Homo sapiens: one gene and its partners. The protein of the gene in region 1 purifies or fractionates together with the protein of each later gene. This does not show direct contact. Each region holds a gene or a part of one and is shown on either strand. Other genes may lie near its edges.

Region 1 (4,508 bases):
GCCTGTGGTCTCAGCTACTTGGGAGGCTGACATAGAAGGATCAATCGAGTCCAGGAGGTTGAGGCTGGAGTGAGCCATGATGGTGCCACTGCACTCCAGCCTGGGTGACAGAACAGGAAAAAAATAAAAAAAGAAAAATGAAAAAAAAGGAAGTGTGAGGATGATCAGGGTCTTGACAGTGAAGATGGTAGTAAGGATAAGGATGATGGTGTTGGTATCTACACTGAAGACACAAACATTGGCAATGCGGATGACAGTGGCATTAAAGGAGAGGATGATGGGGATGATGTTTCCAATGAAGGCTGTTAGGATACAATGTAAATAATTCCACATTACCCTGTTACTAACCATCACAGCGTCTTAGGAAATCGGCCAAACTCGCTCCCTCCTCATTAGCTGACATCCAAAGGAGGAAGGTTCTGAATGACCTTGCATAGGTCCCATGGCTTCCTTTTGCCCCTCGCCTTCCTAAATTAACTGTCTACTTATGCCAAGCAAATCTGTCTCCAGACCTTGCAGCCAGTTACAGCTCCTGTCAATAGGATCTAAATGAAAAAGGTGAAGAACATGCTTTCCCCAGTCTGGCATATTGCTAGAGGTTTGTAAGTTGTCAGGAGCCGAGAAGTGTGGTGGTTTTCATTACCTATCGCTGCCTAACAAACCACACCAGAGCTTAGTGATTTAAATGACCTTTTTATCTCCTCTCCCAGTTCTGAGTGACTGGGCTCAGTCGGGCCGTTCTGCTTCTCGTGATGGCACTGGGGTTGCAGTCATTTGGGACCTGGAAAGGGCTAGAACTTCTGAGTCTGCTCACTTACATGGCTGGCAGTCAATGTGGGCTGTTGGCTGTGAGCTCAGATGGGACTGTGTGGACCAGAGCACCTTGGTTCCCATTCGTGTGGTCTTACCATGTGGCTTGAACTTCTCACAGCGTCGTGTGAGGGTTCCAAGAGGAGGGAGCTTTCCAAGAATGAATGTTCCGGGGAGGAAGAAAGCAGAAGTTATGGGTCTTCTTAAGGTCCTTAAGAGGCGTTGAAGTCCCAGACCACCACTTCTGCTTCATTCTAACAGGTCAAAGCTGTCACAAGGCCAGCAGGGAAACAATGGCAGTGAAAGTAAACTCCACCTGTTGGTGGCAAAATGGCAGCACACGCTGGGAAGGGTGGAGTTGACAGTGGCTGTCTTTGGAGATGACTACACTAATATTGTCCCTTTTGGAATCTCAAAGGACAGTGCAAGGCTCTTGGACAAAAAGAGGTCAGAAAGCTCTCAGGACAAAGGGCAAAGGGCAAAGGGTAAAGGCTGCAGCAGTGATTGATCAATCTTGTCGCCTACTGATATTCCCTCTACCCCCACCTCTCCACTCTCTATGCCTTGTCATGGAGGGAGAGGGTTGCCATGTTGACTGTTGAGGAGGATGGACTTGAGACAGCAAGGGGGGGGAATTTTGGTGTATCAAATCTGTGACAGCGTCTCTCTCTGAGTCAGGCTTGGACTGGGACTCCCCTGGTTCCCGTGGCAAATTGATGCTACGAGCCAAAAAATCCCTTCAGACTGTTTTCCACAGTCTCTGGTCTTACTTCCCTCAGGACTCAGAGGGGCCACAGCTCTAGAGCGGAATGAGTCTTGGCTAGGCACTTTTGCAGCAAAAGAGAGGATAGAATAATATTGGCAGTAGTGGTGCCAACATTGAAAAAGAGTGATGGTGATGTGAATGGAAACCCCGTGGAGAGGACGATTTTGCTGACAGCAGTCACCTTACTAAAGGTGATGATAGTAAGGATGCTGGCCTTGGCGATGGTGGTGATGATGGCGAAGGTGGTGCTAACAGCGGGGTGGAGGAGATGAGGGTACTGATTTCAGAGACGTGCTGATACTGGGAGGAGGATTAAATTAGGGGGTGATGGTAGAAGTGAAAACGTTGGCTGAGGTGGTGGGGAAGATTATGGCTGCTGCGTTTGTTTGTTTGCTTGTTTTTTGAGAGGGAGTCTGGCTCTGTTGCCCAGGCTGAAGTGCAGTGGCACAGTCTTGGCTCACTGCAACATCCGTCTCCCAGGTTCAAGCAATTCTCCTGTCTCAGCCTCCCAAATAACTGGGACTACAGGTGCACGCCAAAACAGCCTGGCTAATTTTTGTATTTTTAGTAGGGACGGAGTTTCATCATCTTGGCCAGGCTGGTCTTGAACTCCTGACCTCAGGTGATCCACCCGCCTCAGCCTCCCAAAGTGCTGGGATTACAGGCATAAGCCACCAAGCCCAGCCTTGACTGTTGTTTTATCTGCTGCCTCTGGGGTCTCACAGAGACCGTCAATGTGCCCGCGTGCTGGCCGACGAGAGGTCTCCCCAGCCAGGGGCTTCCCCGCAAGAGGACATCGCCAACTTCCAGGTGCTGGTGAAGATCTTGCCCGTCATGGTGACCCTGGTGCCCTACTGGATGGTCTACTTCCAGGTGAGCATACCTGCCCTTTTTCTCTGGGGGCCTGGCTCCCCACTCACCATCTGAATGGCCTCATTTCTCATCACAGAGGCCCAGGGCATGTGGAAAGGGGGAAAGTCTGGGAATAAAGTGAGGTGCTGCCCCGTACCAGCTAGCATGGGGCCTGGCACAAAGCCGTCTCAGCAATCCAACTCCCTCGGTGGTACGGCAAGAGGAACTCTGGAGACAGCTTCCTCCTGCTATACCTCCTGCGGGAGTTGAATTACTGGGATGGCTTTGTGCCAGGCTAGGTCCTTGAATAAGTCACCTCATCTCTCTGGGCCTGTTTCCTCATGTGTACAATGGGTGGCTTAAACGAGAGGCTTTTCCAGCTCTGCTGCATTCAGATTGTCCGACTTGGTAGCTGAGGCCTAGAGAGGGTGTGTCAGTTGCCCAAGGCCCCACGGCAGGCAGGTCAGGGGCAAGCTCACAAAAGTGAGTACTTTGCAACAGTGGTTCCCCAGCCTGGCTGTGCTTCAGAATCACCGGCAGAGCTTTTAAAAATATGCTGTTTTAAAAACAGATTCCAAGTCCAACCACAGGCTATTGAATCAGAATTGCTGGGGAAGTTTCTAGTTTAAGAAACTTTTCAGATGATACAGATACTCAGAGTTGAGAACTATTGTCTTCCACTCACCATATTACTCCTCAGTGGGGAGGTTAGTGATGTGTTTGTGTGTGTGTGTGTGTGTGTGTGTGTGTGTGTGTGTGTGTGTGTGTGTGATAGGAGGGTGGGCAGCAGCTTAATGCTAGCCCCCAGGCCATAAGGTCATTGCCTTCCATACCCCCTTCACAGGAACATTTGTTGGAGCTCCCAGCCTGCTACTTAGGGGCACACAGTATTTCTATGATGAGATGGCGGCATGTGGTGGGAGGGTGTCCATGGCTGATTCTCAGTCATACCAATCAGATACTGACTTCCTTCCATACCAGTTGGTAAATGGCTGCTGCCCTGAGCAGTCCACATGCTCTCCCCTGCCCCAGCCCTTCCTGTGGGAGTCTCCTGGATCCTACTCCATTATATAGCAACTAAAGGGGCAGTGCGTGGTATTGGAGGTGGCCCCTGGGCCCTGCTCCTGCAGCTGTGTCCAGAGCCATTCTGGCAAGTCCATGTCTATGCAGTGCTTGTGTCAACCTGTGGACTCAGCTTGGCTTCAGTGTCAGATGAGAACTCCCTGTGGGGGCAGCCATTATCTTTCCCATTTCAGCAAACATTTATCCATGCTTACCCTGTGCTGGGCCCTGGGGACACAAATACTAGTCAGACCAGCTGTGCCTGGGCTCTGGGATAAGGCTGCACGCACTGCCTACAGGCCTGAGAGCAGAGCACAGGAAGCTCCCTGCCCAGCCCAGCTACCTAGGAGAAAGGAGGGTGGGAAGGTGACTATCTCCCTGAGACTGGGAGAGGGGACAGCTGCCCAGCTGTCCTGTGGTACGGCGCTGAGGAATGCCACCTAGGAGTTGGGAGGGGGCATGGCCGTTTCTGTTCCAGCCTCACCCCTGTCTCTCTTGGCAGATGCAGTCCACCTATGTCCTGCAGGGTCTTCACCTCCACATCCCAAACATTTTCCCAGCCAACCCGGCCAACATCTCTGTGGCCCTGAGAGCCCAGGGCAGCAGCTACACGGTGAGAGATAAAGCATGTGTTCGGCACCCAGTTCAGCCAGGTAGCGGCTTCCTCTGAGAAGAGGAGGAAATGAAACTGCCTTCACACTCCCCTTTCCTGCCTGCAAGGCAACCTCAGGATACAGGAAAAGCACCTGGAGGGTGGGAGGACTTGTGTCACAGCGCAGGGATCCTGCCAAGATGCTCAACTGCTTGAAGGAATTCAGGCCAGCTGCACACCCCCATGCTGCTGCTCTGAAGCAGGTCTCGCTGCCTAATTTGCACCCTCAGATCAAGCATACTTAGGTCCCTTTTCAACTCTTCCTTGTCCCCTCTTTCTCTGGGACCCTTAGATACCTAGATCTCTGCCTTTCCCAGAACTTTCTAAACCAGTTCCTTGGCATTTCAGACTCATGAAATGAATGAT
Region 2 (4,508 bases), on another chromosome or scaffold:
ATTCCTACCTTCACCCCTACTTCCAGTGCCACGTAAATCTGCCAAGTCTGGAGCTGACAGGGGGGTTCTGTTGTTGGGGGGAAAGGGGGCTACTTCTACTTTCTCTACACTTGGATTAGGATTCAGCTTTCTTGTGTCTGCTGAGTTACTTACCATTTGGCTGTCTGCTTTCTAGCCTCTAAGGTTTTATGGGTTTTTTGTTTGTTTGTTTGTTTTTTGGTAGAATCTCCTTTTCCTCTAACTTTGTCTTCATAGAGTTTGTTTGCTTTTTATTAACAGATACCTTTTTGTGTGGCTTTTGGAAGGAACTTGGGTAATGTCTTTGTTCATTCCTCCATTTTTAACCCAACTTGAACCTTATTTTTAATACTTCATTCTTTGTTTGATTTCTGCTAAACCAGAATGTCTTTCCTAGTAATATCTTAGAATAACTCTGTTACCTTCTTTTAGTGTAAATTTAAGTAATATTTATTAGGTATAATGGTAAACTTTTTGTTTATTAAGTGTGTATTTTTTGACTATTTGAAAGTTATACTTAAAACATTTAGTCTAATTCACAAAATTTTTTTTAACAGGGTATTGCTGGAACTGATGTAGCTAAAGAAGCATCCGATATTATTCTCACAGATGACAACTTTACAAGCATTGTTAAAGCAGTTATGTGGGGACGAAATGTCTATGACAGCATCTCAAAATTCCTTCAGTTCCAACTTACTGTTAATGTAGTAGCAGTGATTGTTGCTTTTACGGGCGCCTGCATTACTCAAGTAGGTGATGACTTGTCTATCAAAACTTGTTTACTTTAAATTTAAAAAGTATATTAAATGCCTCTTAAAAAATACTTAATATTTAAGCTGAAGCTTAATATTTTAGGTTAGTTAATATAAAAATATAATCCTGTTCTGTTTCTCAAGTTTTTAAACCCTAAAGGTTTCCTGAGAATTGCTGAGCCCCTGAGTAGTTGTGAATGTCTATTAGGAAACATATCTTTTCTAGGACTCACCGCTTAAGGCTGTGCAGATGCTGTGGGTAAACCTCATAATGGATACACTCGCTTCCCTGGCTCTGGCAACGGAACCACCCACTGAGTCTCTCTTGCTTCGGAAACCTTATGGTAGAAATAAGCCTCTCATCTCACGTACAATGATGAAGAATATTTTGGGTCATGCATTCTATCAACTTGTAGTAGTCTTTACACTCTTATTTGCTGGTAAGAATTCAGTGTCTAATAAAGCTTCAGTTAATTGTTTCTTTTCCAAGCTAATCATCCAAGATGTTATAATGTTACAAATTTTCAAGAGCCTAAATTCTACTCCTGACTTCCCATTTATCTTTAATTTCTTCTTAATCAGTGAGTGCTTAGTAAATTTGGGAGGACAATAAGCTAGATAGTAGAATAAACAGGAGAATAAACAGTCCTGATGTCTTACCCTGGCTCTCCACTAATTTAGATATGTGATCCTGAGATTATCACCATAGTTTTGGGAGCTTCTGTTTCCTTGCCTATAAAACAAGAGAGTTGTACTAGATAATCCCAGGTTTCTCTAGCTCCTTCCATGCTGCCATTTCAGATCAAATAAAAGGTCTAGCTAAGTTGTAATTTGTATACCTCCTTGAAATCTAATTTGGTATGATAATTACAAAATAGTCATTTTTCATTCTTTCAGGAGAAAAGTTTTTTGACATTGATAGTGGAAGAAATGCTCCTTTGCATGCTCCTCCTTCAGAACATTATACTATTGTTTTTAATACCTTTGTGCTGATGCAACTTTTCAACGAAATAAATGCCCGGAAAATTCATGGTGAAAGAAATGTATTCGAAGGAATCTTTAACAATGCCATCTTCTGCACAATTGTTTTAGGCACTTTTGTGGTACAGGTGGGTAATTGGAAAAGATAGTTTCAAATTTGCCTGTTAAATGGGAGACATTAGGTAAACAGCTTGTTCTAGCAATCACTTGTGTGGAACATGTGTGGAACTGTTGCCTTGGTGACATATATAATATCATGGTGATTTAAGGTATATGTTAAAGAATATGGGAACTGAATCTCCTGTTCTTAGAAGTAAATGCCACAACCAACTAGACAAACAGTTTTATTTCTTCCAACTGTAAAGTGAAAGATATTATTTCTTAGGAAACAAAGTCAGCCAATCAATTAATTGTTTCCCAGCATTTTAGTATTCTTTTTACATCCCACATTATACCAAAAAAAAGATCAGGTTTAAATTTTAAAAAAAATTAAGATCACTTGTACAAATACATATTGAATTCTTCATGCTCATTATTTTCTTGATTTATAAAAGAAAATTACTTCAGTTTTATATCTCTACTAAAATCCAGACCTGATTGTCAAATCAGTTGTAATCTAATTGGGCTACTAACAAAGCAGTTGGAAATCTATCTGTACAAGTGCACAAATTAACTTAAAAAATAGTGGAACCGAGAAGTGAAAATGACTTGAATTTGAATAAAGTAGAGCTAAAAAGAAAGGAATTGTAACTTTAAGGTTTTAAAATGTTAACTACCAAAATTATTTTTGATTTTAATATTTGGGAACTAGTTAACTGCCATATCAAAGAGAGGCCTGTCAGACTCACAGGAGGGTGAATATTGTTAATTGATTCTTTTTTTAAAAAATTATTTATTTTTTAATTAAGACAGGGTCTTGCTATGTTGCCTAGGCTGGTCTTGAACTCCTGGGCTCAAGCAGTCCTCTCACCTCAGCCTCCAAAAGTGCTAGAATTACAGGTATGAGTCACCACACCCAACCCCAGTTAATTCTTAATATTTCCATGCACACTATTTTAGGCCTTTTAGAATAACAAGCAAAACATAAGCACTGTATTATGAATTTATATTCATCATCAGACCTCACTCTTTTCATAAAGGAGAGCAAATCTGAGATCACCTCACCTGAGTTAGCCCATATTTCATAGAACTTTCCAAGTTGCCTTTCTTCTCATATAGTCTGTGTTTATCTTAGTATGTCTAAATGTTAACTAGAAATAAACAGCTATGTGGAATTTTTTTAATATTGTGCATTTTTCCAGTAACATACAGTCTTTTCTACAAAAGAGTACTATATTTTGAGAAAGGCACAGATTATTTGAAGAGTTGTACTAAATACAGGGGAATGTAGTTGCTTGGGGTTATATTGGAAACAGTATAAAATTATTATTCTTGGTCATAAGAATTTTACTTTTTAGTAAGCGTAATTTAAACATGAAATACGCATGCATCAAAAATATTGGGCAGAGATTTTACTTTATTTCAGTTGTCTTTTTTTCTAAGAGGCAAAGTGGACTGGAGGGGAAAGAGGAAAGGTCTATTTCAGTTGTCTTATTTTCAGTTGTGACTAATATAATACAATTCATCAGAATAGTGGTTGTTCACCTTGTTTTAGAGGACATAAATTTGATATTTTTTTAAGTATATGAATTTTAAAATTTAAGATTTAAGTAAATTTACTCTTGATTATTCCTCCAGATAATAATTGTGCAGTTTGGTGGAAAACCTTTCAGTTGTTCAGAACTTTCAATAGAACAGTGGCTATGGTCAATATTCCTAGGAATGGGAACATTACTCTGGGGCCAGGTAAAAATTTCATCAGTTTTTGTTTAAACCTAAAGTGATTTTTTTTTTTAATTTCTAGTGTGTATTTTCTTTAACAGTTTCATTACTTGATTCTAAATGGTTAATGTGGTGAGTAAAGAGAGGGCATTCAAAGATAAGTTTTTTTAATGTCGTATTAGTTCCAGTATGTCACTTGTTCATTATGATTATGCCTGTACTATAAAATACTATCCTAACTTTTTATGTGTTTTTTTAACTTGTTTTTTAGAAGTTTTGTAGCGGTTTTTAAAAATGATGTATTTATAACTGGTTAGGATGCTAATATCTGTATCTTTTACTCTATAACCTATTTTTACATTTTCAGAAAAAAATTTTTTACAACAATGTAAAAAATACATGGCCGGGTGCGGTGGCTCACGCCTGTAATCCCAGCACTTTGGGAGGCCGAGGCGGGTGGATCACCTGAGGTAAGGAGTTAGAGACCAGCCTGGCCAACATGGTGAAACCCCGTCTCTACTAAAAGTATAAAAATTAGCTGGGCATGGTGGCAGGCGCCTGTAATCCCAGCTACTTGGGAGGCTGAGGCAGGAGAATCGCTTGAACCCAGGAGGCAGAGGTTGCAGTGAGCCAAGATCGCGCCATTGCACTCTAGCCAGGGAGAGAAGAGCGAGACTTCATCTCAAAAAAAAAAAAAAAAATACATTGTCATTTTGTTCTGTAATTTAATCCAATATGCAGCATAGGAAAAACTGACCTTAGAGAATGTTTTTATAAAAATAATGTTACCTGGAAAAAGGGGTCACAAAATGATGTTTTAGATTTGAATTGAATAGCTTTAACAGTGTATATATGAAATAAAGTGCCTGAAATAAGAGATATACCTCATATTTACTATAGGCAGCTTACTTGCAAATGCATGTCATTATTTTTTAA
Region 3 (3,260 bases), on another chromosome or scaffold:
TTAGGTTTGATTTCTGATGACTCTGGCCTGAGTTCCAGGATGGTTTTTTCTTGGGACCAGACATGAACAAAAGTTGACCTCATGAGCACTTCAACCTCTCCAGCTGCCATGCTCCTCCGGAGGCTGCGGCGACTCTCCTGGGGCAGCACTGCTGTCCAGCTCTTCATCCTAACAGTGGTGACGTTTGGCCTGCTGGCCCCCCTGGCCTGTCACCGACTTCTACACTCTTACTTCTATCTGCGCCATTGGCATCTGAACCAAATGAGCCAAGAGTTCCTGCAGCAAAGCTTGAAAGAGGGTGAGGCTGCCCTCCACTATTTTGAGGAGCTTCCCTCTGCCAATGGCTCAGTGCCCATTGTCTGGCAGGCCACCCCCCGGCCCTGGCTGGTGATCACCATCATCACTGTGGACAGGCAGCCTGGCTTCCACTACGTCCTGCAGGTTGTGTCCCAGTTCCACCGGCTTCTTCAGCAATGTGGCCCCCAGTGCGAGGGGCACCAACTCTTCCTGTGCAACGTGGAGCGTAGTGTGAGCCATTTTGATGCCAAGTTGCTCTCCAAGTATGTCCCTGTGGCCAATCGCTATGAGGGCACTGAGGATGATTATGGTGATGACCCTTCGACCAACTCGTTTGAGAAAGAGAAGCAGGACTATGTCTATTGCCTGGAGTCATCCCTGCAGACCTACAACCCAGACTACGTCCTGATGGTAGAAGACGATGCTGTACCAGAAGAGCAGATCTTCCCAGTCTTGGAGCACCTTCTGCGGGCTCGCTTCTCTGAGCCACATCTCAGAGATGCCCTTTATCTCAAGCTGTATCACCCCGAGAGGCTCCAGCACTACATCAATCCAGAGCCCATGCGGATCCTGGAATGGGTTGGTGTAGGCATGTTGCTGGGGCCCTTACTAACCTGGATATACATGAGGTTTGCCAGCCGCCCAGGGTTTAGCTGGCCTGTAATGCTCTTCTTCTCCCTGTATAGCATGGGTCTGGTGGAGCTGGTGGGTCGGCACTATTTCCTGGAACTGCGGCGGCTGAGTCCTTCCCTGTACAGTGTGGTTCCTGCCTCTCAGTGTTGCACCCCAGCCATGCTCTTCCCGGCACCTGCGGCCCGCCGGACCCTCACCTACCTGTCCCAAGTGTACTGCCACAAGGGCTTTGGCAAGGACATGGCACTGTACTCGCTGTTGAGGGCCAAGGGAGAGAGGGCCTATGTAGTGGAGCCGAACCTCGTGAAACACATCGGGCTCTTCTCCAGTCTCCGGTACAACTTTCATCCCAGTCTCCTCTAGGGTGCCAAGAGATGCCTTTCTGAAGTTGGCCACTTCTTGAAGATTCAAATATTTATCTCTTTATTTAGACATGGTTGCCTGCAGGTATTTCACTGTTTACTGTTGTTAGAGATATAGGCACTGGGGCAGCTGAGGAACCTCAATATGTTAAGAGCCTTGGCTTTGGTAGCCTCCTGGCAGGAGCAGCAGTTTGCCACAGGTCCGGACCTCTCCCTCCACACAGCCACACTGCCTCATGCAGTCTGACCCACCCAGTGAGGGTGCATTTGAACACTGATTATATTCTCCATTTGTTTTTAAGCTCTGCTTTGTGTTAGAGCTTGTGACTGCCAAAAATTTTGTGCACAGTGATATGACTGTTTTAGGATCTTAAGGGTAGAATTTTGTGAAAGGTGAGATCCTTTGGAATTGAGTTCTTTCTCATTGGGTATGAAAATGGATGTATGTTTAGAATATATGCCCAACGAGGCAGGACCATGTGGATAGATTCCATTTGTTTCCTTGACCTGATGTAATAAAAACTGATAAAAGCCGTGCAGTGCCCGGCATCTTGGAGGCAGGTGATCTGGCTTTTCTGTTACCTGGGATTTTCTTTTCCTATATATCTGTAGTGCACTGATAATTGATATTGTTAGTGAGAACTTTAAGGCACGACAAGATCTGGAAGAGCTTGTGAACCATCAAAGTCAGATTGCTTATGTTGAGTAGTGATTTAACATTGAACATTTCTGTACTACTCTGACTCTTTGAAAATTGGACATTTCAGAATGATACAATATAGGGGAGCTCTTTACAAGTAGCATATCATTTTTCCTGACTTTCCTGGCTGACTGCTTACCTTCATTTCTTTTTCTTCTAGGTAGCATGATGTTATAGAAAAAAAAAAAAAAAAATCATGGACTGAAGTCAGAAGACCTGACCTTTTATTTCAGATCTCTGCCATGGCCTAACGACGTGACCACCTTGGGCAGGTCATATAATCACTCTGGGTCTCAATTTCTTCACCTGTAAAATGAGGACAGTAATACTTACATGTTAAAGTTGCCTTGAGGATTAAATGGCAGAATATATGTAAAACACCTAGCAAGTGCTTAGTCCATAGAAGACGCTTGGCAAACTTTTCTCTCCTATAATAAACATATACAACTCAAGCTTATTTCGGAAAAAGATATTGGTGATGTTGTTTAAAGTATGAGATAGGGCATGGAGCTGCCACCTATGTACCAGCTATTCCAGATGACCAAGCCCTGCTAGAATAAAGACTGACTTTTCATTGTGACCTCTGAAGGATGTGCAGCTCAGCTTTCACCTATCCCCACGTTCACCCAAGCCAAAAAGAAGAATTGTTCATTCAAACTGGAAATGATCTCCAGCTTGGAAATGAGACTCCTCATGAGCTTATTCTAAGATCAGAGTCTGAAAATTATTTTCTCAAAAGTTACAAATAAATGTCTTTTAACAGTACTGTCAGACTAGTGACCAACAAGTTACTTTATGAGGATGGATGATGATATTAGAGTTCAAGCAATTGTCCAGTTTGTTTCGATGCCACAGTTTGCTTTTAAATTCCCATAGTGAGCTTCCATCTTGAGACCCACTCAACACAGAAGGATTACATAAAGGTTGATCACCCACGCTCTACAGATGAACAAATTGAGACCCAGAGATGCTAAACTGCTCTGCAGGTCACAAACCTGAACAGCAGCATAGCCAAAATGGGAACGGAGCTCTTCTGACTTCAAGCCCCTGCACTTTTTTCTTAACCACATTAATTTTATGAATATCTATGTGGTCAAAGTCTCTTTTGTAAAATCTGAGTATAAGCTGAACTAGATCATGTCTCTGTAAGCTAAGATGGCAGAAACACATTGTCATGTTAGTTTGGAGGAGCAAACAGATATAAGTATGTGTTGTAATGTTATAGTGAGCTGTTATGTATCCCCCAGCAATGTCCAAAGTGATCAGAG
Region 4 (4,508 bases), on another chromosome or scaffold:
TTTTTTGGTAGAGACGAGTTCTGTCCTGTTGCCCAGGCTTGTCTCAAACTCTTGGGCTCAAACAATCTGCCTGCCTAGGCCTCCCAAGTTGTAAGCAATGTTAATTGCTCCTAATTCTAAAAATATGTAAATTGGCTGGGCGCGGTGGCTCACATCTGTAATCCCAGCACTTTGGGAGGCCGAGGCGGGCAGATCACAAGGTCAAGAGATCGAGACCATCCTGGCCACCATGGTGAAACCGTGTCTCTACTAAAAGTACAAAAATTAGATAAATGCATAGAAAAGAATTAGCAGGCTGGTTATGGTGGGTTAAGGGGATCTCTTGAGCCCAGGAGTTTGAGGCTGCAGTGATCTGTGACTGAGCCACTGCACTCTAGCCTAGGTGATAGAGTGAGATTCTGGTTTTTTGTTTTTTTTTTTTAAAGAATCAGCAGGAATTGAACTGTGGCTGCTGAGTTTCTCTAGGTTTGAGTTGCATGGGTGATTTTGCATTTAGGGCAGCGGTGCCTCTGGTTTGGAGGGATTTTCATTCTTCTATTCCCTGGCAGGACTCTGATGCCAGGAGTCTCATTCATTCTGGGCCTTAGCATTGTGGATTACCCCATAGGGGTCTCATGGCTTAAGCTGAATTAAATGTTAAAGGGATGATTTTACTTGTGTTAACTTTTTTTGGCATATTATTACAAGAGTACTTTTCTCCCTGTAACTGAGAATTCAGCACAGGAATCATGTGGAAGACCTCGGTGCCTTCCCCCAATGCCTGCTGCGGTCCCAGTGCTGACAGTGGGGTCCGCTCTTCCCGCCCTCTTGGATCTCCTGCAGGCATAACCAGGCTGTCATTAATATCCACGCCATTGCCACTGGCCTGGGAAGTCGGTCCCTTGCATCTGTGTGTCTTCCTCTTGGTCTCAGCACCTGTTCTTGCCTCTGTCTCGTTTTTCCTGAGCCTTAGAGAGCATCACTTTTCCTTTCCATCACGAGTGATTCTCCAGCCTTGCTACGGAGCTTCCTAAGGATCACACAGTTTACAGATCTGAGTTAGGCAGCTGCGTTATTAAGCACCCCAGGAGGTCCAGATGCATGTAGGTGCTACACATTATTCTCTGGGGCTGTCTAGTCTTCAGATCCAGGGCCTGTGATGCCATCAAACCCGCCTGCCAGGGAGAGCTCTGGTGGACGTCACAGTTGGAATGCGTCGTGCGGCAGGGCCCAGGAAGCCAGCAGGTGGCTCATGGTCCTCGGCCCCTTTCTGGGCCTCCACCTTCCTTTCTCTGCCTGTGCTGTCCTGACGTGTCTTCCCCAGCGGTACCCAGTGGAGGCAGTGGAGAGGAACACCAGGCAGGGCGTCTCGTCTCAGCCAAGCCTTTCTCTCTGCTAGCAATCTTGAGGACAGAGGGAAGGCCTGTCTGAATGTTTACACGTGCTGCATTTTGTAGCTGACATGCACACTCAGGCCATACGTTCTGGTGGTGGTGCTGGTCACATAACTCCCTAACTGCAAGACTGCCTTGCGCTGGAGGAGACCTAGGATCGTTGATATCATCTGCGTGGACTTTAAGGCTGGCATGTTTGCAGACAGTGGCGCCTGCCCGCACTTAGGTTCCCATCAGAGCGTGTAACCATGGGAGAGTGGGGGGCACGGCTGTCTTGGGGCTCATCGAGGCTGCCTGTCATGTTTGCTTTTTCTTTCCTCAGACAGATCGAGGAGCTGCTAGAGCTGCTGATGACTGAGATCCTGCACCCCAGCAGCCAGGCCCCCAACGGTGTGAAGAGCCACTTCATCGAGATCTTCCTGGAGGAGCTGACCAAAGTGGGCGCCGAGGAGGTGAGGCTGGGCTCCGACGGGGCGGTGGAGCTGGGCGTTTGTGGAGGAGGAACTGAGCTCCCGCTGGCTTTCCCCGTAGCTTACGGCAGACCAGAACCTGAAGTTCATCGACCCCTTCTGCAGAATTGCTGCCCGGACCAAGGAGTAAGTGGTGGGTGGCCTGATCGGGCCCGACTCCTTCACTGAGTTCTTCCATGGGGCTGCTGTTGTGGGGGTGCTGCTCCCTCGAGGGATGAATCTGTCTCAGAGTGGCCGCTGGCCGTGTGGGTGGGGAGAGGTTGCAGGGGAGTCGGCGGCTTCCGCTTGGGAATCCAGCATAACGGGCCTGCTCACCGGCCTCTGCTCTGCCCCTCAGTTCCTTGGTTTTGAACAACATCACTCGAGGCATCTTTGAGACGATTGTGGAGCAGGCCCCGCTTGCCATTGAAGACCTCCTGAATGAACTGGACACACAGGATGAGGAGGTGGCGTCGGACAGTGATGAGTCCTCTGAGGGTGGTGAGCGTGGAGACGCGCTGTCCCAGAAGAGGTCTGAGAAGCCGCCCGCAGGTGGGGGTCACACTGCGCCTGGCTTCTCCTCGGGGCCTGTCCTGGGCTGAGCCAGTGCGATCTCCTGCTGGGTTGCTCCTGCCACCTCCTACCTGGTCCCCTTGTCTCTGCCCCTCTCCACAGTCCATCCTCAGCATAGAAGCCAGAGTGACTTCTGTGGGCACCAAGCACACGTCGTTTCCCCTCATCCCCCAGCCTCTGATGTGCTCCACGCCCTCTCCGGACCCCTGGGCTCCTCGGTCTAACGCATGCCTCTGGCTCAGTTGGCCCCCTAGACTCGTTCCTGCCTTGGTGCCGAGTCTCTCCGTCCCTCCCACCGTCTCTCCCCCCATCACTCTCTGGGGCTGGACTCTTTCAGCCTCCTGGCCTCTCCCAGCCCCCAACGCAGTCCTCCCCATAGCGTCACTCTGTGGCACGGGATGTGAATCACTTGCTCCTCGTGTTCCTCGTTCCTGGCCCGTCTCCCCAGAGGACAGCAAGCTCTGTCCATATTGACCATGACTGGGTTCAGGCCTGAGACCTCAGGGCACCTGACTGCTCTGTGTGCAGTGTGTGTGAGGGGCAGGTGTACTCACCTGCCCCTCACTGCCTGCCAGAGGCCTCTGTGGGCAGCCGTGGGGTCCAGCCTGGCCCATTTTTTGTTTTGATGCTGCACTCATTGTCCGAGCCTGCTGGGTGGTCTGAGCTCTAAGTGTGGCATCCTGGTGCTGTGGAGGGCATGTCTTTGACCACGCTCAGGACCCCAGTATGCCCCAAATCAGTGCTGTGGCCACTGTTCCCCTTGGCTTCCTAATCAGAAGACCCCCTCCCCACCGCCCCCAGCACTTGGCCCGGCCACCCTGTATGCTTCTCCCTGGTCTCTGCCTTGCCCTTCTCTCTCAGTAGCTGAGGTGCCTGGCAGGTCCGCTAGTGCCTGCTGCTGGCCCCCTGCTGCCAGCTACAGAGCAGACCCTTGTCACATGCTGCCCCACAGCTGCCTGTTGCCCAAAAACCTTTCTTCTGCAGACAGTGCCATCAAAGCCCCAAATGCCCAGCCTAGCTCGAGCACCCAGCCGAAACATCAGCTCCCACAGCTTCTGGACCAGGCCACCCTGAGGCTCCTCACTTCCAGAACTTTTGACATGGCCTTTGTTGCCCAAGATGCCAGCTTGTAGTCAGCCACTCAGGGCTGTGTAGGCACCTGTGCCCTGGGACATCTTTTTTTCCTTTGCAGGCCTGAGGTGGCACCTCTCATCCTGTCCATACGAGATTAGAGGTCACATGGCACCTAGTATCTGCCTTGAGCTGTGGGCTTTCCCGCCTGTGCCCATGTTCTGACCAGGGTGCAGGGTGGGCTGTCCGTTCCCGGGTGTTTCCCGCCTGTGCCCGTGCTCCGACCAGGGTGCACGGAGCGGGCTCTCCATTCCTGGATGTTTGGGGCCAGCACACGTTGGGCACAGGTAGGGTTCACGGGGTCCCTTTTGTTCCAGGCTCCATCTGCAGGGCTGAACCTGAGGCTGGTGAGGAGCAGGCAGGTGACGACAGGGACAGTGGCGGCCCCGTTCTCCAGGTGGGTTCCCTGGGCTCATGGCTGTGCCCTCAGCCTTTGCCCCTCTGTGCTACCGCTTGCTCTGGAAGAGGAGGGGGGCGTTAGGAGGGAGGATGGCAGCTGTTGGCATGGAGAGTTACCCGGACAGGGGTTAGCTTTGAAGGAGGGATGGGTGCCCCAACCCTGCCCGCCTGTAGACGAGTGGGATCATTGAGAGTGGGGCTGGGGCCTGGGAAAGTGGGGCTGGGGCCTGGGAGGGTGGGCTCAGGCAGAACTGCATTATCCAGGGCTGGCCTCACCTCACGCTGTCCTCTTGCCTCACACATGGGCAGCCCCCCAGATTTCCTGCGGCCCCCTCGTTGGGGTGCTGGTGGGGAATGAGATGGCATGTGCCAAGCGGCTGGCCTGTGGGTCCCAGCGAGGAATCCACTCAGCCAGTGGGGTCTGACTTCAGGCAAATTGGAAACTTAAATGTTTTAAGTTTTAAATATGATTATCTGCAGACTGAATAAAATGTGGCTATCTTGGGTTAAAATTGATCAATTTAACCTATGTTGTTCGTGCTTGTCTGTGTGGTTCCTAGAGTGGTAAAGCTGCAGGCAGGCT
Region 5 (4,508 bases), on another chromosome or scaffold:
AAGAAATAATATGTATTTATATTTGGATAAAGAATCAGTGAAAAATAAGAAACTAATAAAAATGGTAACCTATAGGGGGCCAGGGGAGATGGGTGGATGGGTACAGTGGTAGGAGCAAGACTGCTTAGCATATATCTTTTATATCAGTTTGAGTTTTTAGCCATATTTAAACAATTTAGGTAAATTTTATATTATGTAGTTTTTACCACAATAACTTTTTTTAACTTTTTATTATAGAAAATTTTAAACATATGTAAATACAAAGAATGGAAAATGAACTCCCATATACCCGTTGCCTAGTTTCAACAATTATCAACATATAGCTAGTCTTGTTTCATCCATATCTCTACCCACTTTCTATCTTCTCCCACTCTCAACTGGATTATTTTGAACCAAATGTTAAAACATCATATCATTTCATCCATATATACTTTAAAACATAAGGGCTTTTTTTTAACATGACACCATATAATTATCACAGCTAAAACTTTAATAATAATTCTTTAATAACCAAATATTATTTTAATTTCCCCAATTGTCTCATAAATGTTATAATTGATTTTTTCGAAATAGTATCTAAATAAGGTCCACTGGTTGTATTTGGTTTCTTAAGTATCTTTTAATCTTAGGTTCTCCCTTTTTGGTTGTTTTTTTTCCAACCTCCTAGCACTTTATTTGTAGAAGAAGATGGCTGTTTGTCTTGTACAGTTTCCTATATTCTGGATTTGCTGATTGTCTCCCTGTATTGTCTTTTAAACTTGTTTCTCTGAATTCTAAATCTTCTCTGAAGTGATAATTAAATATAGTGGTCTGAAAGATGCAAGTTTTTTTGTCTTTATTTTTCCACCCAGTATTATGCATATAATATGATACCTGGCTGTGTGTCTCTTTGTGATGTTAAGGAGCTATCAGCCTTATCCATCCATGATAAAGTTCTTCAGAAGTTTACCAAAGAAGATTTCAAGATTAAATTTTAAATTGGATGCTGCAAGATTTTATGAAAAAGTTAAAAGGAAAGCTAAAAAGAGAAATAAGAGAGCAAACTATATATGTATGCTTTATATGTGTCAGTGTGCAAGGAATTGTGCAAGACTATATGAGAGATGTATGTACATCAAAGATGATATTTGATAGAAGATATGCAAAACTTTGTATGTGAGACAGAAGGAAACAGTCCTAAAGGAAAGACACTCTCAAAACTTCATTCCCTAACAAAGCGAATTGTAGCTTTGAACCATGTCTCTTTAATTAGAGTTGCTGTTGATATGAATAATCAAAGGTCTTGATCATGCTATTATTGGCTTTGATGCAATAAATAGAATGGTAATATTTTTGTGAGATGGGAGGTTGTATAGTAAAACACTTGTGTTCCGAGGCTGAACAGTTTGCTGAGGCGCTGTAAGATTATTGTGAAGGGCATAAATACTTAGTAACTTTGCCCCCTACCCCAATTTAGAATTTCTGTAAGAGAAAGAAAAGTAGTGTTAAAGGAAGAAAAAAAGCTATGCTCGACTGGGTTGTAGTGATTGGATTATGCAATATTGATTTACTGTCATAAATTGTGCACAACCAGATTTTGCTGACTGTTGTAAGTTGAGCTTATAACGTGTCAGAAATCCAAATCTGTTTTATTTCTAATATGTGAGTAGAATTTAAATTAATTCAACAGCAATGGCCTCTGTGTTCTTTTCAGTAATGAGAAGTATCATTTACATCACCACTCTGTTCTTTGGATAAATAAATTTTTTAAAAAATAAGGATTGTAATAGCCAGTGATCCAAGGCCACTAACCCTAAGTGGTTCTTATTGCCCGTCCTCTATCTCCCATGGCTCTCATTTCAGGAAACAACTACTTGGTACTAAGTTCTTTCCTTTTACTATTCATTTTGCATTTCAGCTGTTTCCTTCCATTTCCATGTGTTTAATCCACCTTTCCCAGGCTATAGTATCACCTATATTTGATTTATTCTAGGCTTCAGCTTCCCTATTTCTATTTTCTTATTCTTCTTATTTCTTTACTATTCAGACAGAAATGTGTATTGTAGATATAGAATTAATGCATACCCCAAAAGGTACCCAAGAAGCTTGCCATTTTCTCTTCTAGCACAAGGCTTGAGTGCCATGCTAGGCTTTTGGGTTTTTGCTACGATGAGGCTTAAATCCACTCTCTGCTTCTACTCTGAAATATTCCTGAGCTGTTATGTTAACCTTAGAAGACACAGCTACATTGGAAGTTAAGTCCACTGACTGTAATATACTTGATGGGCACTTAGTTGTTCAATTATTCAGTATTGTTCAATATTCAATAAAAACATGGGACCAAATTTTGAGAAGTTAGATGAATAGCTGGAATCTGATGATGAGGATGGATTGATAAAAGAACAAGTAGATGGAAGAAGTTGGAAGGAAAGTAGGTTTGTAGGTGAAGGCAGCAAAAATCAGTTAATTTTCAGTAAAATAGTGTAACTTAGTTGCACTTAAATATTACACATCTACACCAGAAAGATACATTCTATTCACCTCTTCATTATTATTTATCACAGGGATTATGATCAAGAACAGTTTGCTGATAACCAAATACCACTGTTGGTAATAGGGACTAAACTGGACCAGATTCATGAAACAAAGCGCCATGAAGTTTTAACTAGGACTGCTTTCCTGGCTGAGGATTTCAATCCAGAAGAAATTAATTTGGTATGTATTTTCACTAATGCATGCTTGTATTATTATCGGGTAAAGACAAAACTGAAGACATATTCAAATAATATATTCTAGTGAAAGAAGCTTTATACTTGAAATCAGGCTATTTGGATTCTAGTCTAAACGTAGTCAAGATTGGAATCAACATATCTAGACTGAGAGATGTGCACAGTCACTTCAGCCTTTTATGTTGGTCTGTTGGAATGTTCCAACTTTATTCTATGAATAATTTAAATCATAGGCTTCTTTTTTTGAAACAGAGTCTCGCTCTGTCGCCCAGACTGGAGTGCAGTGGCGCGTTCTCAGCTCACTGCAGCCTCTACCTCCTGGGTTCAAGCGATTCTCATGCTTAGGCCACCTGAGTAGCTGGGATTACAGGCATGTACCACCATGTCCAGCTAATTTTTTAAATATTTTTAGTAGAGATGGGGTTTTGCCATGTTGCCCAGGCTAGTCTTGAACTCTTGACTGGATTTGCCCTCCTTGGCCTCCCAAAGTGCTGGGATTACAGGCGCGAGCCACTGCACCTGGCCCATGGGCTTTTTCTTGAGAAAGGTTTTTAAAATCACACCAAAATTAAAATAAATTGATTAAAGTGGCACTATAAGCATATTATTCTTGCTTTTAAAAAGCCTCTTAGCTTCTTAAACTACAAATTTTACCTTAAAGGGCAACGTAACAAATACATGAAAAAATTGCAAACCTTAAACTAGGAGTGCTTCATAAGGACTAATTTATGTACACTTATGCATATATAGAGGATTGAGTCCCTTGATGAGATAACTAGCTCAATGAGAACTGAGCGCGTAAAAAAGCTAAGAAATGGTTGTCATGTAAGCCTGTTAGGATCCCAGAAAAAGATCCTGGCCAGCAATTTCAGTCATGGTCATGTTGTTCACAAATAGGATTTCTGCAACTGTGCACTGGCATTCCAGAAATGCAGTGGTGGTGGTGTAATAGTACTAGTGAGCAACATTTATTGAGCACTTACGGGTTGAAAACTGTTTTAGTTATTTACATACATTATCTCACATGCATCATCTTCACAATCAACTCTATAAGACAGGTACTATTACTATCCTCTTTTTAAAGATAAGAAGGAGAGACGTAACAAGACCAAGGAAGTTTACCCAGGTCAATTAGGGTATTCAGATTCAGAGCCTGTGCTCTACAGTTAAGCCTCTTTTGCACTTAATTAATCCTTCAACTCACCTTGAGAATTTGGCAGCTGAAAAAACTCTTAGAAATCATCTAGACCAACAGTTACCCAAATCTGATTGTGTATTTATATTACCAATAGTACCTATGGAAAATTTTGAATAACCGTCCCACAGCTGGAGCTTTTTATTCATCAAGCCTGGCAGGAGGACCAGGAATCTGCAGTTTTAACAAATAACTCAGGTGCTTCTGATGCCTTTATTCTATGAATCAATGTTTATGAACACTGCTTGGTTCAGCCCCACCTCTACCCCCAGCTTCTGCCTGCCATTCCATTGTTTTTTACATTCTGCTTTGCAGCGGAGAGCCCCTCATTTTTCTCAGCTGCCACAATGGAATATTTGATGTGCATACCCCAGGTAGTCAGCACTGAACCATGATATTCCAAAGGATTCTTGCTATATAGATATATAATATTCTTGTTGAAGAAGTGCTGAGATTACTTTGAACATTATTTCCAAAGAGAAATTTACCATTGAAAACACTTAATTTGTTTCAGCGCTTACTTTAATATATTTTAGAATGTATCTGTTTCTAGTGCCTGTGGGTTTCTCTGATAATCGCGTGCATGTGTGTGTGTGTGTGTGTGT
Region 6 (4,508 bases), on another chromosome or scaffold:
ACTGCAATCTCCGCCTCCTGGGTTCAAGAGAATCTCCTGCCTCAGCCTCCCAAGGAGCTGGGATTACAAGCACCTGCCACCACACCCAGCTAATTTTGTATTTTTAGTATAGATGGGGTTTCACCATGTTGGCCAGGCTGGTCTTGAACTCCTGACCTCAGGCGGTCCACCTGCCTCAGCCTCCCAAAGTGTTGGGATTACAGGCGTGAGCCACTGTGCCAAGCCTGTACATACAATTTTATTGAAACACAGACACATACACATTTATTCTTGTTCTGTCACCCAGGCTGGAGTGCAGTGGCACGATCTCAGTTCACTGCAACCTCTGCCTCCCAGATTCAAGCGATTCTCCTGCCTTAGCCTCCCAAGTAGGTAGGACTACAGGCATGTGCCACCACACCTGGCTCACTTTTTAAAAATTTCTTGTATTTTTAGTGCAGATGGGGTTTCACCATGTTGGCCAGGCTGGTCTCAAACACCTGACCTCAGAAAATCTACCTGCCTCGGCCTCCCAAAGTGCTGGGAGTACAGGCATGAGCCACCATGGCCAGCCTGTCACACTACTTTTTAATGACAGAGTTATTGTGATAGAAATCATACGTACCGTGGGCTGGGCACAGTGGCTCACACCTGTAATCCTAGCACTCGGGGAGGCCGAGGTGGGTGGATCACCTGAAGTCAGGAGCTTGAGACCAGCCTGGCCAACATGATGAAACCCCATCTCTACTAAAAGTACAAAAATTAGCCAGGCATGGTGGTAGGTGCCTATAATCCCACCTACTCGGGAGGCTGAGGCAGGAGAACGCTTGGACTCTGGGGGGCGGAGGTTGCAGTGAGCCAAGATCGCACCACTTCACTCCAGCCTGGGCAACACAGCGAGACTCTGTCTCAAAAAAAAAAAAAAAAGAAAAGAAAGAAATTGTATGGCCTGCCGAGCTTAAAGTACTGGTCCTTTTGCACAAAAAGTTGGCTGACTCCTGGTCTAGGGCAGTGGTTCTCAACAAGGAGGGTGATTTTGCTGCCTGTAGGACATTCAGCAATGCCTGGAGACATTTTTGGTTGTTACCGTTGGGGGATGGGTGCTCTGGCATCTAGTGGGTAGAGGCCAGGATGCTGCTAAGCACCCTGCAATGCACAGGACGACCTCACACAACAAAGAGTACTAGGCCCAAAATGTCCACATTGTCAAGATTGAGAAACCCTGCTCTAGGGCAGTTTCCTGATTTCACACATGATCTTGTAGAATATACAGGAAGTGCTTAAAGAAGAAAGTAAGGCCAAGCGCAGTGGCTCGTGCCTGTAATCTCAGCACTTTGGGAGGCTGAAGCGGGCAGATCATGAGGTCAGGAGTTCGAGACCAGCCTAAACAACATGGAGAAACCCCGTCTCTACTAAAAATACAAAAATTAGCTGGGCATGGTGGCACGCACCTGTAATCCCAGCTACTTGGGAGGCTGAGGCAGGACAATCGTTTGCACCCAGGAAGCAGAGGTTGCAGTGAGCCGAGATGACACCACTGCACTCCAGCCTGGGAGACAGAGCGAGACTTCATCTCAAAAAAAAAAAAAAAAAAAAGAAAGTAAAAGTCATTCAGTCTTCCCACCCAGAAATTGTTACTACTCAAGTTTTTAATGTATTTTCCTTTGCTTTGTTTGGGTCGGTTTGTTTGTTTGTTTGTTTGTTTTGAGACAGAGTCTTGCTCTGTTGCCCAAGCTGGAGTGCAGTGGTGCGATCTTGGCTCACTGCAACCTCCACCTCCCAGGTTTTCAAGCAATTCTGCCTCAGCCTCCTGAGTAGCTTCGTCTACAGGCGTGTACCATCACCCCTCGCTAATTTTTTTATTTTTAGTAGAGACAAGTTTTCGCCATGTTGGCCAGGCAGGTCTCGGACTCCTGACCTCAAGTGATCCACCCGCCTTGGCCTCCCAAAGTGCTGGGATTACAGGTGTGAGCCACCATGTCTGGCTGCATTTTTTTCTGTGTAAAAATAGTATTGTATTTCTACTCTGTTGGAATTAATGTGCACATATTAGTAACTTAAAGTTTTTCCTGATATTAAAAAGGAAAAATTTGTTCTATTTTCAATAGAAATATATGCCCATCAAAGAAAATACAGATGAACCCCCAAAATGAGGGTCATTACCATCATTAATGTTACCTATAAACCCTGGCATTATTCTTAAGGCTGATGTTATGTATTCCCTTTGTCCTGGTAATACTACACGCAGGTATCTGTCCTGAGAAGATAGACAAGTGCGTACTGATTTATGTTCCTAGCAAAGACGTGCCTGACAGTATTGGCTTATACTGGCAAAAACTGTAACACATCTAGTATCTTTCTCATTAGGGTTCCAGTTAAATTAGTTATGGTAAAGCCCTACTTTTGGCCAGATGCAGCAGCTTACGCCTGTAATCCCAACACTCTGAGAGTCTGAGGCAGAAGGATTGTGTGAGGCCAAGAGTTCAAGAACAGCCTGGGCAACATAGCAAGACCCTGTCTCTATAAAAATTTTTTTTTTTTTTTTTTAGTTAGCCAGGTGTGGTAGGCTCACCTGTAGTTCCAGCTACTTGGGAGACTGAGGAAAGAGGATTTCTTGAGCCCAGAAGTTCAAGGCCAGCCTGGGCAACAGAGTGAGACCTCCGTCTCTACAAAAATATTTTTTAAGTCCCACTTTGGGATATGATGTAGGCATTATAAAGAAAGAAAGAAACCACTAGGTAGGGACAGACAAGTTTAGCAGATGGTGAGTCGAACAGACACGGTTTATATCCCAACTCCGCCGCTCCACAGTTCGTGGCTTGGGGCAGGTTTTGTTTAATTTCCCAGGGTCTGCTCCTCATCTTAAAATGGGCAAGTTTTGTGAGGATTAAATGAAAAAGTCATGTGAAGTGCTCATTACAGACTACCACATAGTACTTGCTCAGTAAATGTTACCAGCTTTATTGTCAAGTAAACAAGGTTACAGAATGCTATATATATAGTATATTCCTCCCTATGGTTTTTTTTTTTTTTTTTTGAGACAGAGTCTCGCTCCGTCACCCAGGCTGTTGTGCAATAGCACGATCTCGGCTCACTGCAAGCTCCACCTCCCGGGTTCACTCCATTCTCCTGCCTCAGCCTCCCGAGTAGCTGGGACTACAGGTGCCTGCCACCACTCCCGGCTAATTTTTTGTATTTTTAGTAGAGACGGGGTTTCACCATGTTAGCCAGGATGGTCTCAATCTCCTGACCTCATGATCTGCCCGCCTCAGCCTCCCAAAGTGCTGGGATTACAGGTGTGAGCCACTGCACCCAGCCCCTGTTTATGTTTTACAAAGTGGGCATGTGGCTGGGTGCAGTGTTGCACACCTGTAATCCCAGCACTTTGGGAGGCCGAGGCACATGGATCGCTCAAACTTAGGAATTCGAGACCAGTCTGGGCAACATGGTGAAACCCTACGTCTACAAAAAGTTAGGTGGGTGTGGTGGCATGCACGCCTGTAGTCTGCTTCTTGGGAGGCTGAGGTAGGAGGATCGCGTGAGCCTGGGAGGTCAAGGCTGCAGTGAGCCCAGATTGCGCCACTGTATTCCAGCCTAGGCCACAAAGTGAGACCCTGTCTCAAACAAAACAAACAAACAAAAAAAATTGGGCATGTGTTTAAAGAAGTATAAAAAAGTAACAAGAAACAGAGGCTATCTCTGGGGGAGTAAGAGTATGGAGAGACGTTTGCTTTCTGTTTATTATAGGTTCATTTGAGTATTTTAGAATGAACAAGTATGATTTAATTCATGGAGATGGGGGGAAGTCACCCATATTCCTGTCCTCATCATTGGGCTTTTGGTTTGGTTTGGTAAATAAGGCTGTTGGCCAGGAGGGTGCTGGGCTCACACTCTGTCCCTCTGTCACACTGCAGCCATGGACCTGGCTCAGGCAGGCAGCACAGTGGAATCTAAGATCTACGACACACTCCAGTGGCAGGTAAGGGTCAGCTGGGGGAGGGCGTGGGGAGAAGCACACAGGGGCACAGGTGGCTGCGTGTCACCTTCCTTTATTGTCCCCTCCTTCTCCAGATGTGGACACTCCTGCCTGGGTTCTGCACAAGGCCTACAGATGTGGCCATCTCCTTCAAAGGGCTGGCACGGACGCTGGGCATGGCCATCAGCGAGCGTCCAGACCTGAGGGTCACCGTGTGCCAGGCCCTGCGCACCCTCATCACCAAGGGCTGCCAGGCAGGTACGTGTGGGCTGTGGGAGTGGGGGCTGGGGAGGATGACACAGGTCCCTGGCCCCATCCCCTGGCTTGCTACACTCCTTGCCAGGCAGAGCCACAGAAACTCACCTCTGGAGCTCATCCTTTGCTGCTTCTGCTGCAGACCCCAGGGGATAACTTTGCTGGCTCCCTGGGGTTGGAGCCATCGAGGACCATGGGCCACTGGGGCACCAGGCTCTCCATGCCCTGGCTCAGCTTCTGCCACAGAGAGCCCCAAACCCATGGATTCCAAGTCCTGCCAGCTCCCCCAAGAGAGGGC
Region 7 (4,508 bases), on another chromosome or scaffold:
CCGCTGAAGCGCTATGTGAAATTCCCAAGATCACGTCTTGTTAAAAGTACACAGAACTTGTTTTCTGGGCTCCTAGGCAAGCATGCTTTCTACTGCAATGCTAGTCACATTCATTTCATTTTTATATTACTTTCTCTCAATTATAATCTTAACAGTTATTTAGAGTCTTACCAAGTGGGGCTCTCCAAAGCTTGCTTTAAGATGCACATATTTGCCGGCCGGGCGCGGTGGCTCACTCGTGTAATCCCAGCACTTTGGGAGGCCGAGGCGGGTGGATCACGAGGTCAGGAGATCGAGACCAGCCTGGCCAAAAAGGTGAAACCCCGTCTCTACTAAAAATACAAAAAAAAATTAGCCAGGCATGGTGGCGGGCGCCTGAAGTCCCAGCTACTCCGGAGACTGAGGCAGGAGAATGGCGTGAACCCAGCAGGCGGAGTTTGCAGTGAGCCGAGATCGCGTCACTGCACTCCAGCCTGGGTGACAGAGCGAGACTCAGTCTCAAAAAAAAAAAAAAGATGCACGGATTTGCCAAAATGAAGTAGCCTTCTTGTCACTGGGGCTTCTGTGCTGAAGGCGGCATGGGGTGGGTGGAGATGCTGCCTGAGTACAAAACATGCTGTAACGCGCACGGTCTGTGTCACTTAGATGAACTTGTGCCTCCGAGTCTTCCTGTGTCCAGTCGTTAAGGTCAACGAGTTAGTTCATGTAATAGGCATAGGAAAGAGCTGGCCCACAATAAGCGCTCATTGAAGGCTCATTATTTATGTACAGAAGGAGATTTTCGTGTTTTAATTCTGTTCTTCCTCTGGCTGGCTTTTCCTACCACTGCTGATTTCTTTGTTGTTGCTAGATAATGTTCTGATCCACATTTTTCCATGTCTAGCAGTAGTTGCATGGTGGCAGCTTTTTGAAAGGCCTGTGGGGCATTAGGAAGCTGAGGGCTGGAGAGAGGGGCACAGGCCTGAGCATCTGAGTGCGGGACTCTTCTGAGCTACATGGGTCATCTCAGATATGAAAATCTGCACCAGCTGCTTTGGGAACCCTCTTGTTATTTTTTATTTCTAAGAGCTGTCCTCATTTTCATGTATGAGCATGTGGGAGTCTGTTTTCTTGTCATTACAAAGTGATGGAATCACTGGGTGCCATTCCTGGGCCCTGTGATTACCATAATCAGGGCCATTCTGTGACTTTCTTGGTACCTCCCTGTCCTCCTAGAGGACACTGGTATGCTTCAGCTGACTTAATCATCAGAATGATCTTAGTATAGGCAGTATCTCAGTGAGTTACAGGAAAAGCCACAGACCGTGACCACCCACAGCACATCAGGAATTTACTTGATTGGAAAACATGAGATAATTGGGCCTACTTTCATTTAAACCTTTGCTAATTGCATGAAGGACAATGAAATGACTTGTTCCGAAGGGAAGTCATTACAGTACTTTAGTTAATGACATCCACAGAAACTTCTGCCAGCGTGTGATGAGCTTTCAGGGTGCTGGCTCCATTCAGCTGCTTTCAGTCCTGTACCGAGAAAAACATTCTGTGTTAAAGACGATGGTGTCAGCTGCTGAATTGCTTCTGTAAGTCCTTTAAAACTCAAAAACCCAATCTATGTAGATTCATGTTAAAATTTCCACATCAGAGTTAACGTACAGGATGTGCTTGAATAACTTTACCAACGTGAATTTTACTTATATTCTTAAATGTTATGCTGTTATATTTTATTTTGAAGACATTAAATGGAACTTCAGATTTAGAATTTTGAGAAATTTTGATGTAATATACATAATTGAAAACATACAGCCGGGTGTGGTGGCTCACGCCTGTAATCCTAGCACTTTGGGAGGCCGAGGCGGGTGGATCATGAGGTCAGGAGATTGAGACCATCCTGGCTAACATGGTGAAACCCCGTTTCTACTAAAAATACAAAAAATTAGCCAGGCATGGTGGCAGGTGCCTATAGTCCCTGCTACTCGGGAGGCTGAGGCAGGAGGATGGCGTGAACCCAGCAGGCGGAGCTTGCAGTGAGCCGAGATCGCACCACTGCACTCCAGCCTGGGCGACAGAGCGAGACTCCGTCTCAAAAAAAAAAAAAAAAAAAAAAAAAAGAAAAAGAAAATATACATGAATATGTTTTATGCCTAAATTTTTATTGACGTCTGCAGAATTCTAATTTACTTTTAAAAATTATATTTGACTATAACATGGTTGCCATAATAGAATGTGTCTTCCAGTTTATCTTCATTGAAGGGGCTTGAATGGAAACTACAGGTTGGCTTGGTTAAGTCTCAGGTCTTTACAAACTGAAGTGTATATCCAGTCCATCAGAGCTGGCCTCCAGGAAGTCACTGTGGCCTCCCGCCAGTCTGTTGCCTTTCTCTGGATTCTTCTAGCGTTGATTTCTTTGCAGTCCAGCAATGATGTCTGTGTACTTCCCCATACACTCAAGACTGTCTGGTGGATCTCAGCCTTGCCTGCGATTTTCACTGACACCCTTAGATCTCCATCCAGTCCTGTCTGGATGGCCCCTGTTGAAGCTTAATAACCCCTGAGCTGGTCTTGTCCAGCCCCACTAGCTTGCTGCCCCTCACGTAGTTCCTGGTTACCCAGACCAGAAACCTGGGAGTCACAGATCCTTCAGCTTTTACAGCCGGTGTCACACACTGCCATGCGTTGCTGTGTTACCCAGGCCCTTCATCCCTGGTCCAGCGCAGCTGCGTTATTTAGGCCATCGTCTCCTGGCTGGGCTGTGGGGGTCACTCTTTGTCACCACCATGTCCCTGCTTCCGCCTTCTCCCTCCAGTCCCAGCTTAAGTTGAGATTTGACGGAAAATGATGACACGGTAGTGTTGCCAGCAAGACTGAAAACGACTGTTTTCTGCCTTCAAGTTTTATTATCTCTCTTTTACACAGTGAAAAAACAGGGTTCCAGGAACTTGCTGAAGACCACACAGACCCACATGCAGGTCTTCTCATCCTTCAGTCCACAGTTACGGAATTCGGGATAAAATGTACCAGAACAGCACAAGGAGAACACTTAGGCCTTGCTTAGCTCCACCAGGCCCGGCAGTTCCTGGCCCCACTTCCGCCCCTCAGGGCAGTGTCTGGTTTACCTGCTGGTCCCCATCAGGGCCCAGTGCCCCTCAAACCACTGGCTGAGCCAAGTGAGTGTATTCACAAGCTACCTTAGTGCCAGAGACTCAGCCCTGGGAAAGTAGGGCGTCTCCTCCGTGCCACCTGGAGCCCTTCCAGAGATTATTAAGTACCTGTCTATTTGGCAACCTCTGATATTCAGAATGTGTTGCGTTTATCTGTTTTAGAAATCACTCGTATTGCTTCCTTGTAAGAAATGAATTTGGGGTAAAAATCTGCAAAAAAATCTTTTAAGAAATGAATATTGTTAGGTAGTGGAACTTTTTTTTTTTTTTTACACAGAGTCTTGCTCTGTCGCCCAGGCTGGAGTACAGTGGCGCAATCTCAGCTCACTGCAACCTCCATCTCCTGGGTTCAAGCGATTCTCTTGCCTCAGCCTCCCAAGCAGCTGGGATTACAGGCATATGCCACCACGCCCGGCTAATTTTTTGTATTTTTAGTAGACACGGGGTTTCACCACGTTAGCCAGGATGGTCTCGATCTCCTGATCTTGTGATCCACCCACCTCAGCCTCCCAAAAGTGCTGGGTTTACAGGCGCACACCACCACACCTGGCTAATTTTTTTTTGTATTTTTAGTAGAAACGGGGTTTCACCGTGTTAGCCAGGATGGTCTTGATATCTCCTGACCTTGTGATCCACCCACCTCCGCCTCCTAAATTGCTGGGATTGCAGGTGTGAGCCACCGCACCTGGCCAGTAGTGGAATATTTTGAGAGACATAGGTGTGTTTTTAACATCATTTTTAACAGTTTTATTTTTCCAAGGAGTCAGAATGGCTGCTGGCCAAACAGTGCCCCTTGGTTGTTGATTTTAACAAGAGGAAGGTGCCCTTGCGTCCAGGCTGGGGCACTCTGGCCGGCTGCTCTGGGTTGCCGAGGGATGCCTTGTTGGAATGCCCTGCCTTGTGGCACTTTGTTAATTTAGAAAGTGCCAGTTCTGTGTGTTGAAGGAGAAAGGAAGGTTTCTAGGAATAACATAATCTTTTTTCTGTGTGGTTCTTTCAGGTCGGTGCCCACTTTCTGGAGGCAGTGGTGAGGAAGTTCGATGCCATCTATAAATACGGAAGCGAAGGGAAAGAGTGTGACAACCTGTTCACCGTCATTGCCCATTTATACAACTTCCACGTGGTACAGTCTCTCCTCATCTTCGACATTTTGAAAAAACTGATTGGAACTTTCACCGAAAAAGATATTGAACTGATCTTGTTAATGCTGAAAAACGTGGGTTTTTCATTGAGGAAAGATGATGCTTTATCACTTAAGGAATTGATCACTGAAGCCCAGACCAAAGCCAGCGGGGCAGGCAGCGAGTTTCAGGACCAGACCAGGGTACGCGTGCGACGCTTGATCTGCTT

What was found.
Region 2: the proteins of SLC15A3 (region 1) and ATP2B1 purify together in Homo sapiens (affinity purification with mass spectrometry; 2 studies listed by BioGRID and IntAct, with this or other methods). This does not show direct contact.
Region 3: the proteins of SLC15A3 (region 1) and PGAP4 purify together in Homo sapiens (affinity purification with mass spectrometry; 2 studies listed by BioGRID and IntAct, with this or other methods). This does not show direct contact.
Region 4: the proteins of SLC15A3 (region 1) and RRP1 purify together in Homo sapiens (affinity purification with mass spectrometry; 2 studies listed by BioGRID and IntAct, with this or other methods). This does not show direct contact.
Region 5: the proteins of SLC15A3 (region 1) and RABL3 purify together in Homo sapiens (affinity purification with mass spectrometry; 2 studies listed by BioGRID and IntAct, with this or other methods). This does not show direct contact.
Region 6: the proteins of SLC15A3 (region 1) and RRP12 purify together in Homo sapiens (affinity purification with mass spectrometry; 2 studies listed by BioGRID and IntAct, with this or other methods). This does not show direct contact.
Region 7: the proteins of SLC15A3 (region 1) and NOM1 purify together in Homo sapiens (affinity purification with mass spectrometry; 2 studies listed by BioGRID and IntAct, with this or other methods). This does not show direct contact.

Annotation. Positions count from the first base shown.
Region 1 is NC_000011.10:60,941,630-60,946,137, reverse strand, and holds part of SLC15A3 (solute carrier family 15 member 3), read left to right. Parts: intron 1-2,301; coding exon 2,302-2,449; intron 2,450-3,992; coding exon 3,993-4,103; intron 4,104-4,508. UniProt on the Homo sapiens protein: Proton-coupled amino-acid transporter that transports free histidine and certain di- and tripeptides, and is involved in innate immune response. Also able to transport carnosine.
Region 2 is NC_000012.12:89,600,414-89,604,921, reverse strand, and holds part of ATP2B1 (plasma membrane calcium-transporting ATPase 1), read left to right. Parts: intron 1-575; coding exon 576-767; intron 768-996; coding exon 997-1,210; intron 1,211-1,667; coding exon 1,668-1,879; intron 1,880-3,488; coding exon 3,489-3,596; intron 3,597-4,508. UniProt on the Homo sapiens protein: Catalyzes the hydrolysis of ATP coupled with the transport of calcium from the cytoplasm to the extracellular space thereby maintaining intracellular calcium homeostasis.
Region 3 is NC_000009.12:101,473,914-101,477,173, reverse strand, and holds part of PGAP4 (GPI-N-acetylgalactosamine transferase PGAP4), read left to right. Parts: intron 1-4; 5' UTR 5-81; coding exon 82-1,293; 3' UTR 1,294-3,260. UniProt on the Homo sapiens protein: Golgi-resident glycosylphosphatidylinositol (GPI)-N-acetylgalactosamine transferase that catalyzes the N-acetyl-beta-D-galactosamine transfer from an UDP-N-acetyl-alpha-D-galactosamine to the 4-OH-position of the first mannose of the glycosylphosphatidylinositol (GPI) of a GPI-anchored protein (GPI-AP).
Region 4 is NC_000021.9:43,795,727-43,800,234, forward strand, and holds part of RRP1 (ribosomal RNA processing protein 1 homolog A), read left to right. Parts: intron 1-1,695; coding exon 1,696-1,825; intron 1,826-1,904; coding exon 1,905-1,969; intron 1,970-2,180; coding exon 2,181-2,374; intron 2,375-3,843; coding exon 3,844-3,923; intron 3,924-4,508. UniProt on the Homo sapiens protein: Plays a critical role in the generation of 28S rRNA.
Region 5 is NC_000003.12:120,696,609-120,701,116, reverse strand, and holds part of RABL3 (rab-like protein 3), read left to right. Parts: intron 1-2,543; coding exon 2,544-2,694; intron 2,695-4,508. UniProt on the Homo sapiens protein: Required for KRAS signaling regulation and modulation of cell proliferation. Regulator of KRAS prenylation, and probably prenylation of other small GTPases. Required for lymphocyte development and function. Not required for myeloid cell development.
Region 6 is NC_000010.11:97,373,280-97,377,787, reverse strand, and holds part of RRP12 (RRP12-like protein), read left to right. Parts: intron 1-3,893; coding exon 3,894-3,958; intron 3,959-4,050; coding exon 4,051-4,213; intron 4,214-4,508.
Region 7 is NC_000007.14:156,955,693-156,960,200, forward strand, and holds part of NOM1 (nucleolar MIF4G domain-containing protein 1), read left to right. Parts: intron 1-2,913; exon of another isoform or gene 2,914-3,164; intron 3,165-4,158; coding exon 4,159-4,482; intron 4,483-4,508. UniProt on the Homo sapiens protein: Plays a role in targeting PPP1CA to the nucleolus.